Linked DNA regions of Homo sapiens: region 1 is linked to region 2. Evidence: fine-mapped expression QTL. A gene starts in region 2. The other region holds a variant in brackets. All regions are shown on one strand. Distances are between the middles of the regions. Region 1 holds the start of SPINK8 (serine peptidase inhibitor Kazal type 8 (putative)). Region 2 holds the start of ZNF589 (zinc finger protein 589).

Region 1 (5,377 bases), 93 kb after region 2:
TTCCGGGAAGCCGCATTCTCCATAGAAGCTCTTGGTAAGGGGAGCTACTGGTAGTATAGCGGCACGGAGGGGATTACCCTATACTAGGGGGTCCTTCTATAAGCCTTTCTAATGGAGGGTCCTGCCTTGTGGCTCTTTGGCTTCAATATCTGCTTGGCGGTTCCCTTTCTATTTCCCTTTCCTTTCCTTTCTGATGACTCCTGCAGTGTAAGACTGCCACCTCTTTAGGTTTCTGTACAGCCAATGATAATCTTCTAATGGCTTCCTGATATTTGATAGGTGTTCCCTCAGAAGTTAGGAATTCTCTTTCTCTCCATATTGCTGCGTGGGCATGGAGGACTAGGTAAGCATACTTAGAGTCTGTATAGATATTTACCTTTTTTTCTTCTCCTAATTCTAGTGTATAATGGCCCCTGTTTTTGCTAGAATGTCTCTCCCTAACAAGGGAATGGGGCTTTCAGGCATAATTAGAAAGGTATGTGAAAATGGTAAAGTTCCCTAGTCACAACTTAGTGTCTGGGAGAAGTATCTAGTGACTGCCTGTCCTAGGACCCCTCGGATAGTGACAGATCTGGAGGACAGTTGTCTGGGACAGGAGAGTAAGACTGAGAAGGCCGCGCTAGTGTCCAGCAGACAGTTAACCTCCTGGCCCTCAGTGGTCAAGCATACCTGGGGAGGGTGATGCCAGGGGCTGGCGCTTGCCCCAGGCACCCTCAGTCCTGCTGCTGGATCATCTGGTTAGTGGCTTCTGACTCAGAGGACCTTCATCCCCTGGGGCAGTGGGCCTTCCAGTGATACCCTTGAAATAAGGGGCATGGATGAGGGGGTGGCTTATTTCTATTCGGACAATCTTTTTTAAAGTGTCCTTGTAGACCGCACTGGAATCAAATCCCTATTAGGCATTCGATTTGCCCAGCCTTTCACTTTTCCAGAGCCTCCAAAGTCCACTTGCCTGAAGGCCATGACTAAAGCGGTGGCCTTCTTTTTATCCCGTTTGTCCAGTTCTGCCTGCTCCTTCTGATCTCTATTATAAAAACTGAGGCCAAGTTCTTAGTTTAAGTTTTGTTCCAGGCCTAAGGCGGATTTTGAAGTTTTTTTCTAATGTCTGCAGCTGAGTGATAAACTTACCCTTTAAGATTAGTTGGCCTTCAATAGATCCAGATGACAGAGAGGTATGCTTCCTCAATGCCTCCCTTAGTCTCTCCAGAAAGGCAGTAGGATTTTCTTCCTTTCCCTGTGTTATAGTGGGCATCATTGAATAATTCATAGGCTTCTTCCTAGTTTTTCTTAGTCCTTCTAGCATGCAAGTTAGCAAATGTCTGCGGCACCAATCTCCACATTCTGATTCTGCGTCCCATTGAGGGTCTACACTGGGAACTGCCTGCTGGCCTGTGGGGAATCGTTCTCTTTCCTCTGTTGTCATCCTATCATTGACCTGACTGAGATACCAGAGATTGCCAAACTCTTGGGCTGCAGTTATAGCGGCACTTCTCTCATTTGGGGTTAGTATCTGATCTAGCAGTAACATTATGTCTCTCCATGTCAGATCAAAGGATTGTCCTAACCCTTGTAAAACATCAATATAGCCATCAGGGTTATTTGAGAATTTACCTAGGTCTATTTTAATTTGCTTCAAGTCTGAGAGGGAAAAAGGTACACACACTCTGGGCTGAATTCTCCTCCTCCCACCACTTCAAGGGGGCATAATCTGGGAATATTGGCACTCTTTGGTTCATTGTTTACCCCTTTCTCTATCTCCTTTGGCACCGTTTGTGTTGAAGGGGGGTCATTATTAGTTGGGGAAGGAGCCGGGGGAACGCCGGGGCAGGGGGGTAGATTCTGAGGGCTTCCTGTAGGGCATAAATCACACTTTTAACATAATTGTGAGTTGTCTCTTAATGAAAAGAAAGTTTGCACATATGGCACTTCGCTCCATTTGCCCTATTTTCTACAAAAGAAGTCTAGCTGTAAGATGGTGTTATAATTTATACTTCCCTTGGAGGGCATGTTTCTCCCTCTTGAAGAGGATATTGTGGCCAGGGGTACTGCAGAAGAATATAAGTCGTTTCTTTCTTAGCATCTGAGGGTCAAATTGGTCCTAATTCTCTAGAATACATCTTAGGGGCGTTTTTGCCTGGGAGGGGGGAACGTTTAAAAAGAACATAGGGATGCCAGCACCCCTAGTCATTTTCTGATGAGCATTAGTCCTAGAGCGTCCTCTGTGGTCCTAATGCTTATTCCTTTTCAGGGTGCGTAACCACCCACGGACCTCTGCTTATCAGATTAGTTACACTCACCGATGTAGCAGTCCTGCACCTGTTTTCCTGCCCTTCTTGACCACAAAGAAAGGGGTCTGGGCTGCTGGATTCTAGTGGTCCTTTACCAGCGTGCCTGACATTGCCTTTGCACTCAGGAGTGAGTTCTAGAGCTGGGCTGGGTTTCTGAGTATTTCATAACAACCCAGTTGCCCCATCAAGATGCATTTTCATAAACAACAGTTCTTATGCAAATTCGTTTCAGAGAGGGTGTAGGTAACCTTTTGAGTCAGGATTGAGATAGAGTTTTTGCCCACTAGGGCCTTTGTCCTTTTCCTTTGTAGGAATATGCCTTAATTAT[C/T]GAACTTAAGATTTTGTTGCCCTGGATTAAGTCCTTTTGGGTACGAAATATGAGAGATGGCTCCTGTTTATCCTATGTGCCTTTTTCCTACGAGAAGGAGAGCGAGGAGAAAAAGATGGGCTTGCTCTTTTTGTAAGTACTTTAAGGCTTGGCTGAGTGCAAACAGCTCGCAGTTTGTGCAGACCAATTATGAGGCAATTCTCCTAACTCTGCTTCCACAAGAGTTTCCTTATCAATTACTGAATACCCATTGTGGTTTTTTCCTCAATCGCCTGGGAGGAACCATCTATCGTCCTATCCTAAAGGAAGTTCCTCCTAGGTCTGGTTGGACCTTTGCATGGCAATTAAGATTTAAATCCCCTGTTAGGAAATCTGCTGGGTTAAGGGAATTATCAGTGGTTGGTGTTAAATCACCTTTTTCTAACAGAATAGCCCCATACTTTAAGAATTTTGAGCTAGTAAGCTACCTTTTTTTTTTTTTTTTTTTGGTCTTAGGATTGTTCTGAACTGGTGAGGTGTGCTCACAATGAGGTTTCCTCTAAAGGTTATTTTTCTACTTTATTCTGTTAGCAAAGCAGTTGCCACTACAGATTGAATGCATTTGGGCCATCCACGGGTTACTGGGTTCAGGATTTTTGATAGGAAGGCTATGGGTTGTCAGTGGTCTCAGTGTTTTCGGGCTACGCCCTTGTTTACACTGACAACAAGGTAGTATTGGAGTATTATAGGGTCGTGGAGAAGACCTTTAATTATCAATTATAGGTTCTAAATTTACCTTGGCTTTTAAAGGAATAGGGTACACTGTTTTTTCTTTACTACCTCTCTCTTTCCCTTTTTTCTTTCTTTCTCTCTTTGACTTTCTGCCTCTTCCTCTCTCTGTCTGTCTTTTTTTAGATGGATTTTGGAAACGCAGTGGAAGGACGTTCACTTGTTGCCCCAGTTTGCCACTATAGGAACATGTGCCTCCCTTTAATTTACTCAAATTCGTTTTCATCCTGATCTATTATGTTGTTGTAGACTCAGTTCCAGTTGTTAAAATACTGGGTTATCAGTTCTAAGGGCCTGGCCAAGGAGCCAAGGCTTGGAGATTGTATTGCAGGGGGTAGTAAACTGGGTAGAAATTAGGGGAGGAGAGCATCTTACACAATGGGAGAGCGATCTTCCTAGCTATTTACAAACTTGGGGCCCTGGCAAGGGTGGTGGGGAATGGGTCCCACATAACAGCCCATGTTGACAGCTATATACCTAAATTGGGAGGGACACCAGGGGCAAGACTCCCTGGGTTCATAGCCTAGATATCTAAGGCCACAGCATAGAGCTTCCTTAGATCTCTTTGGAGATACAACTTGCTCTAATACTTGGGAGAGGAAATGAAAGTCTGAAGCATTAGTACCTAGGAGGCAGGGATTGGAGGAAGTAGATTCAGAGGTAAGGAGAATTTTTGGGGCTACACTTTCAAGAAAGTCATGGTCGGGACCCAGGAGGTATGGGTCAGAAGGAAAGGTAGGGGTGCACACGTGGGCAACTGTTGAGTAGAGACTTCTGGCTGCACCATGATCTCAACCAGCCAATGCCGGGAGTTCAGGACGACAGCTTTCTGCCTCTAGTCGGCCCTCGGCTTCCCCCCAGGAAATTGTGAAAGCGGAAGCTGGTTCCAGGCAGACCAACGCTCCTAACCCCAAAGGGTTGGGGGTTGTTAGAAAGCCTTTTCCCAGAAAGCCTCACAGCTGAGTCTTAAGTCCAGTGGCCATGCTAATCATTTTTAACTGGCTGACAGGTGCCCGGTATTTCCTCTGATTCTAAGGAAGGATAGGACAGGATAGCAAGCTAAAGTGGTTCAATATTACTCACCACTTTGGAGAATACCTGTACGGGCCAACAGCTGTTACCAGGCAGGTCTTTGTTCTTAGAGCTCCTGAGATGGTGGCAGGCCGCTCCCAAGATGGCGGCAAGCCTTTTGTTCTCTGACCTGGGGTTCTTGGCCTCACGGATTCCAAGGAATGGAAACTTGGGACATGCAGTGAGTGTTATAGCTCTATTAGAAGCCGTCGGTCACGGAAGAGAACCCTGGAACCCAGCGACTAGTGTTTAGCTCGATTAGGATGAACCCAGGCACTTAGCCATGCAGGGACAATGGCGAGCCTCTAGCCTGATTGGGAGTGGCAATGGGCACCTCGCTGGATCAGAAGCATAGCAGCCACCCTGCCCAATCCGGAGGTGTGGAAGCCAATGGTGGGTCAGCGACGTTGGCTTTCAGCAGTGGTGGAGAGTGAGTGAAAGCTCAGCTCGAGCCGGAACAAACATGGAACAGAAGAGTGTGCAGTTGCAAGATTTAATAGAGTGAAAACAGAGCTCCCATACAAAGGAGGGGACCCAAAGGGGGTTGCCTGCAAAACTGTCTTAAAAAAAAAGTTTAAATAGTTACAAATAACTCAATTACTGGCCTAGTTTAAATATTACTATTTTAAAATAAAAATCATTATCTTAGACATAACCCATGGAATTTACATTCTATGGCAATTTGATTTTACATTGTATATTTGAAAGCCACATGGATGAACTCAGTTAGAAATTGTATGTCATTTCTTTTTCTCCTTGAATGAACGTTTCATTCTGCTTTCTCCATGTAACTTTTATTTCAATGTTATGCTTGATGGTGAGTTACTGATCATGCTTTTCTACTTTTCATCATCAGAAATATGCAAATAAATGGATTTTTCAAAGTTCCTGGGATCATAGGATATAAAGTTTTAATCTGTTT
Region 2 (5,377 bases):
CAGCAAAATTGCAATAGAAAAAGAGTAATTCGGCTGGGCGCGGTGGCTCACGCCTGTAATCCCAGCACTTTGGGAGGCCGAGGCAGGCCGATCACGAGGTCATGAGATCGAGACCATCCTGGCTAACACAGTGAGACCCCGTCTCTACTAAAAATACAAAAAATTAGCCGGGCGTGTTGGCGGACGCCTGTAGTCCCAGCTAATGGGGAGGCTGAGGCAGGAGAATGGCATGAACCCGGGAAGCGGAGCTTGCAGTGAGCTGAGATGGTGCCACTGCACTCCAGCCTGGGCGACAGAGCAAGACTCCGTCTCAAAAAAAAAAAAAAAAAAAAGAGTAATTCATGCAGAGCCGGCTGTGCGGAAGACCAGAGTTTTATTATTACTCAAATCAGTTTCCTCAAAAACTCAGAGATCAAAATTTTTAAGGATAATTTGGTGGGAAGGGGGCCAGTGAATCAGGGTGCTGATTGGTTGGCTCGGGATGAAATCATAAGGAGTTGAAGCTGTTCTCTTAGGCTGAGTCAGTTCCTAGGTGGTGGCCACAAAACTGGTTGGCAGGTCCAGCTGGGGCCGTTCAGTTGTCAGAAATGCAAAAATCTGAAAAGACATCTCAAAAGGCCAATCTTAGGTTCACAATAGTGATGTTATCTTTAAGAGTAATTGAGGGCTGGGCGTGGTGGCTCACGCCTGGAATCCTACCACTTTGGGAGGCCAAGGTGGGCGGCTCACCTAGGTCAGGAGTTTGAGACCAGCCTGACCAACATGGAGAAACCCCGTCCTTACTAAAAATACAAAATTAGCCGGGCGTGGTGGCGCATGCCTGTAATTCCAGTTACTCCGGAGGCCGAGGCAGGATAATTGCTTGAACTCGGGAGGAGGAGGTTGCAGTGAGCCGAGATCGCACCATTGCACTCCAGCCTGGGCTCAAAAAAAAAAAAAAAAAAAAACCAACCTTGGCCGGGCGCGGTGGCTCACGCCTGTAATCCCAGCACTTTGGGAGGCCGAGGCGGGTGGATCATGAGGTCAGGAGATCGAGACCATCCTGGCTAACAAGGTGAAACCCCGTCTCTACTAAAAATACAAAAAATTAGCCGGGCGCGGTGGCGGGCGCCTGTAGTCCCAGCTACTGGGGAGGCTGAGGCAGGAGAATGGCGTGAACCCGGGAAGCGGAGCTTGCAGTGAGCCGAGATTGCGCCACTGCAGTCCGCAGTCCGGCCTGGGCGACAGAGCGAGACTCCGTCTCAAAAAAAAAAAAAAAAAAAAAAAAAAAACCAACCAAAAAAAAAAAGAATCCAAAAATATTAGCGGGGTATGGTGGTGCGTGCTTGTAATCCCGGCTACTCAGGAGGTTGAGGCAGGAGAATCGCTTGAACCCAGGAGAGGGAGGTTGCAGTGAGCCGAGATGGCACCACTGCACTCCAGCATGGTAGACAGAGTGAGACTCCGTGTTCTTTTCCCTAAAAAAAAAAAAAGAGTAATTGGGGAAGTTGTGCTTCAAAAGAGTAATTGGGGAAGTTGTGCGTCTTAGGGCCTCTGGAATAATGGCTGGTAATATTTAGAATTCCAGCCCTTCTCATCCTAATTTGGTGGCTGGTGGCCTTTCATTCATTTTACAAGAACAGTTTAGCCCTTGGGAAGGGCTATTATTTAAGCTATAAACTGAATTCCTTCCCAAGGCTACTTTGGCCTATGCCCAGAAGTGGACAAAGACAGTTTAGAGGTTGAAAGGAAGATGAGGTGGGTTAGATCTGATATCTTTTACTGTCATTGATAAGGCTCTGATGACTGGAGGAACACCAGGGTCCTTGGTCTCTGATAGGCTTAATAACACAGACACACGTGGAGTGGTTTTAAGGAGCGAAAAGTTTAATAGGCAAGAAAGAAGGAAGGAAGACGAAAACAGCTCCCCCATACAGAGACAGAGGGAGCGGGGATTCCAACAAAGAGAAAGCGCCGTGTGCGGAAAAGTGGCTGCTTATCTGAGGATGCTGGAGGAGGCGGTGTCTGGTTTCCATAGGGCTCAGGGGATTAGTTTGATCAGATGTGTCATTTATGTGGCAGCCAAAAACCTGGCCCTCCCACCCTAGCTTTTTAATATGCAAATGTAGGGCTCCATGAAGTTCTACACACGTGGGAATATGTGGGGGGTGGCCATGTTGCCAGGCACATGTCAGGGCAAAGAAAAGGACGGCGGGAATCGCCATGTTTGGGTGCGTCCAGTTTCTAATGGCCTGTATTTCCATATCAAAGCTTGCCATCCTGCTCTAGGAGCCCAGGCTTTCCTGCTAGACAAGAAACCTTTCTGGAGCTGCTTTAAAAGAAACAAAAACTTCCCAAGGACCCCTTTCCTTCTCTATCTGCTTAAAATAATTTCTTAATAACTCCTATAACATCATAATTTCCTTAGGTATAATTTTGCAAAGGCGGTTTCAAAAGCTCTTTGGGGTCCTCAGTAATTTTTAAGAGTGTAAAAGGATTTTAACAACAACAAGTTTGCGAACCACTGTCCTTGAGAAGCTCTCCATGGATGCGCATGAGTCTGTCCAATTGGAGTCCTGGTGTATTTCTACATTAGATACCACACAGCAGTGAACACACAATGAACAGGTCAACACGTGTCATTATAGAACTGCGCAAAAGAGCTAGTAGCAGGCATTGTAAGTGTATTTATATAATGTTTACAACCATGGAAAACAACACTATATTTTGCTTATGGGTACCTGTGGTAAGCACAACCCCAAATATTGCGGCCGAGGGGGACCTAGAAGGTCAAAGTGCGCCTCAGCATTTTCTCTCGCCCTGCACAAGCCGCATTTCGCCCCGAGAACTACGCTTCCCGGCAGGCTGCGCGCCGCGCGGTGACGCACTTCACCCAGTCCTGCTTCTTTCTTCTGGCGCCGCCAGTGGCCCGCGGTGCGCATTCTAATCCGTTTCACACACGGTGCTGCTACCTCGTTTGCTTCGTGCGTGCGTGCGCGCGCAGATGTGGGCCCCGCGGGAGCAGCTACTGGGCTGGACTGCGGAAGGTGAGTCGGGGCCGCGAGATCGCCTCCCCCATTCGGTGCTCCAGCCGCAGGCGCCGCGCAGGCGTCGGCCGTATCCACCAGGGATGCGCGTGGGGTGCGAGCTGTGTGAGGCGCTGACTACCCCTACAGCGGCTCTTACTCCCCTGGGGGGCCAGGTTCCTCCCTAGGTGTCCCGTACAGTCTCCACGGTGCTCACTCCACGACTCTTCACCGGGCATCCTGCACTTGTGCACTCCGGCAGTCATTGGCCATAAATGGCTGCTGAGCATTTGAGATGTGTGGAGTGCAACTGAAGAACAGCATTTTGTATTATTATATTATATCATATTTATTTTGAGACGGAGTCTCGCTCTGTCGCCCAGGCTGGAGTGCAGTGGCGCGATCTCCGTTCACTGCAATCTCCGTCTCCCGGGTTCAAGCAGTTCTCTGCCTCAGCCTGCCGAGCAGCTGGGATTACAGGCGCCCTCCACCACGCCTGGCTAATTTTTGTATTTTTAGTAGAGACGGGGATTTCACCATGTTGGCCAGGCTGGTTTTGAACTCCAGACCTCGTGATCCGCCCACCTCGGCCTCCCAAAGTGCTGGGATTACAGGCGTGAGCCACCGCGCCCGGAGTATATTATATTTTTATATTTTTTGAGTCGGTCCGGAGTGCAGTGGCGGGATCTAGGCTCACTGCAGCCTCCGCTTTCCCAGGCTCAAGTGATTCTCGTGCCTCAGCTTCCGGAGTAGCTGGGATTACAGGCGGCGCCTCACCACCCCGGCTGTTGTATTTTTAGTAGAGAGGGGATTTCGCCATATTTGCCAGGCTGGTCTCGAACTCCTGGCCTCAAGCAATCCACCCACCTTGGCCTCCCACAATGTTGGGATTACAGGTGTTAGCCACCCCACCCGGCCCAAAAGACTTTTTTTTTGGAGACAGAGTCTTGCTCTGTAGCCCAGGCTGGAGTGCAGTGGGCGATCTCTGCTCACTGCAACCTCTTTCTCCCAGGTTCCAGCGATTCTCCTGCCTCAGCCTACCAAGCGGCTGGAATTACAGGGACACGCCACCACGCCCGGCTATTTTTTTGTATTTTTAGTAGAGGCGGGGTTTCATCATGTTGGCCAGGCCGGTCTTGAACTCCTGACCCCAGATGATCCACCTGCCTCGGCCTCCCAAAGTGTTGGGATTACAGGTGGGAGCTACCACACCCGGCCCCAAATGACTTTGGATGTAACAACAGGAACAGTCTAGAACAGGGCTGGGCAAATTTTTTTCTGTTTGGTTTTTTTAGAAACAGGGTCTCCCTATGTTGCCCAGGCTGGTCTCCAACTCCTGGGCTCAAGGGATCCTCCCGCCTCGGTCTCCCAAAGTGCTAGGATTATAGGCGTGAGCCACTGCACCTGGTCTTGCAAACGTTTTCTTTTAAGGGCCAGGTGGTAAATGTTTCAGGCTTTGTAGGCCACACGGTCTTTGTTACGACTAGTGGTCTGCTGTTGTGTGAAAGCAGCCAAAGACCATAGGTAAACGAATGAGCATTGCCGTGTTCCAATAAAACTTTCTTTATAGACATTGAAATTTGAATTTTGGCTGAGTGCAGTGGCTCACGCCTGTAATCCCAGCACTTTGGGAGGCCAAGGCAGGAGGATCTCTTGAGCCCAGGAGTTCAAGACCAGCCTGGTCAACATGGCAACACCCCATCTCTACTTTAAAAATAAAATAAAATAAAATAAGCTGGGTGTGGTGCCGTACACCTGTAATCCCAGCTACTCTGAGGCTGAGGCGCAAGAATTGCTTGAACCTTGGAGGCAGAGGTTTCAGTGAGCCGAGATCGCATGACTGCACTCCAGCTTGGGTAACAGAATGAGACTCTAAAAAAAAAAAAGGAAATTTGAATTTCATATATAATTTTCATTATTATGAAATATTCTGTTTCTGATTTTTTTTTCAGCCAATTAAAAATGTAAAAACTGGCCCAGCATGGTGGCTCACGCCTGTAATCCCAGCACTTTGGAAGGCTGAGGCTAGGATCACTTGAGCCCAGAAGTTTGAGACCAGCCTGGGCAACATAGTGAGACTTCATCTTTGTGTTAAAATTTTTTTTTTCTGAAGTAAAGACTATTCTTAGCCTTTGGGTGGTATAACAACAGGTGGCAGGCTGGATTTGGCTTGTGTGTAGTTTGCCAAGCCATTGTTCAGCATGTAGCTGTTTGTCCTGTGTGGGAGCCCTTGTGCCTCCTTCCATCCACTCTTTGAGGGTGGTGGGCTTTGTCTCTGCCTACTGTGCCAAGACCAGTTCAATTGGATAGCAAAGCTAAAGAAAGTAAAGACAATGGACCGGGCGCGGTGACTCACGTTTGTAATCACAGCA

Evidence for each region.
Region 1: its variant is fine-mapped to the expression of ZNF589 in whole blood (TOPMed, PIP above 0.99).

What each region holds. Positions count from the first base shown.
Region 1 is chr3:48,331,238-48,336,614 of GRCh38, forward strand. SPINK8 (serine peptidase inhibitor Kazal type 8 (putative)) reads right to left here and starts at 2,424. Exons shown (of 8, transcript NM_001080525.3): 1 at 2,298-2,424; 2 at 1,129-1,234. RefSeq lists a silencer at 2,769-2,969. The variant C/T (reference allele first, on the strand shown) is at 2,617.
Region 2 is chr3:48,238,189-48,243,565 of GRCh38, forward strand. ZNF589 (zinc finger protein 589) reads left to right here and starts at 2,916. Exons shown (of 4, transcript NM_016089.3): 1 at 2,916-3,026. The coding sequence starts at 2,984. RefSeq lists enhancers at 2,071-2,365, 2,683-3,600, 2,791-3,085.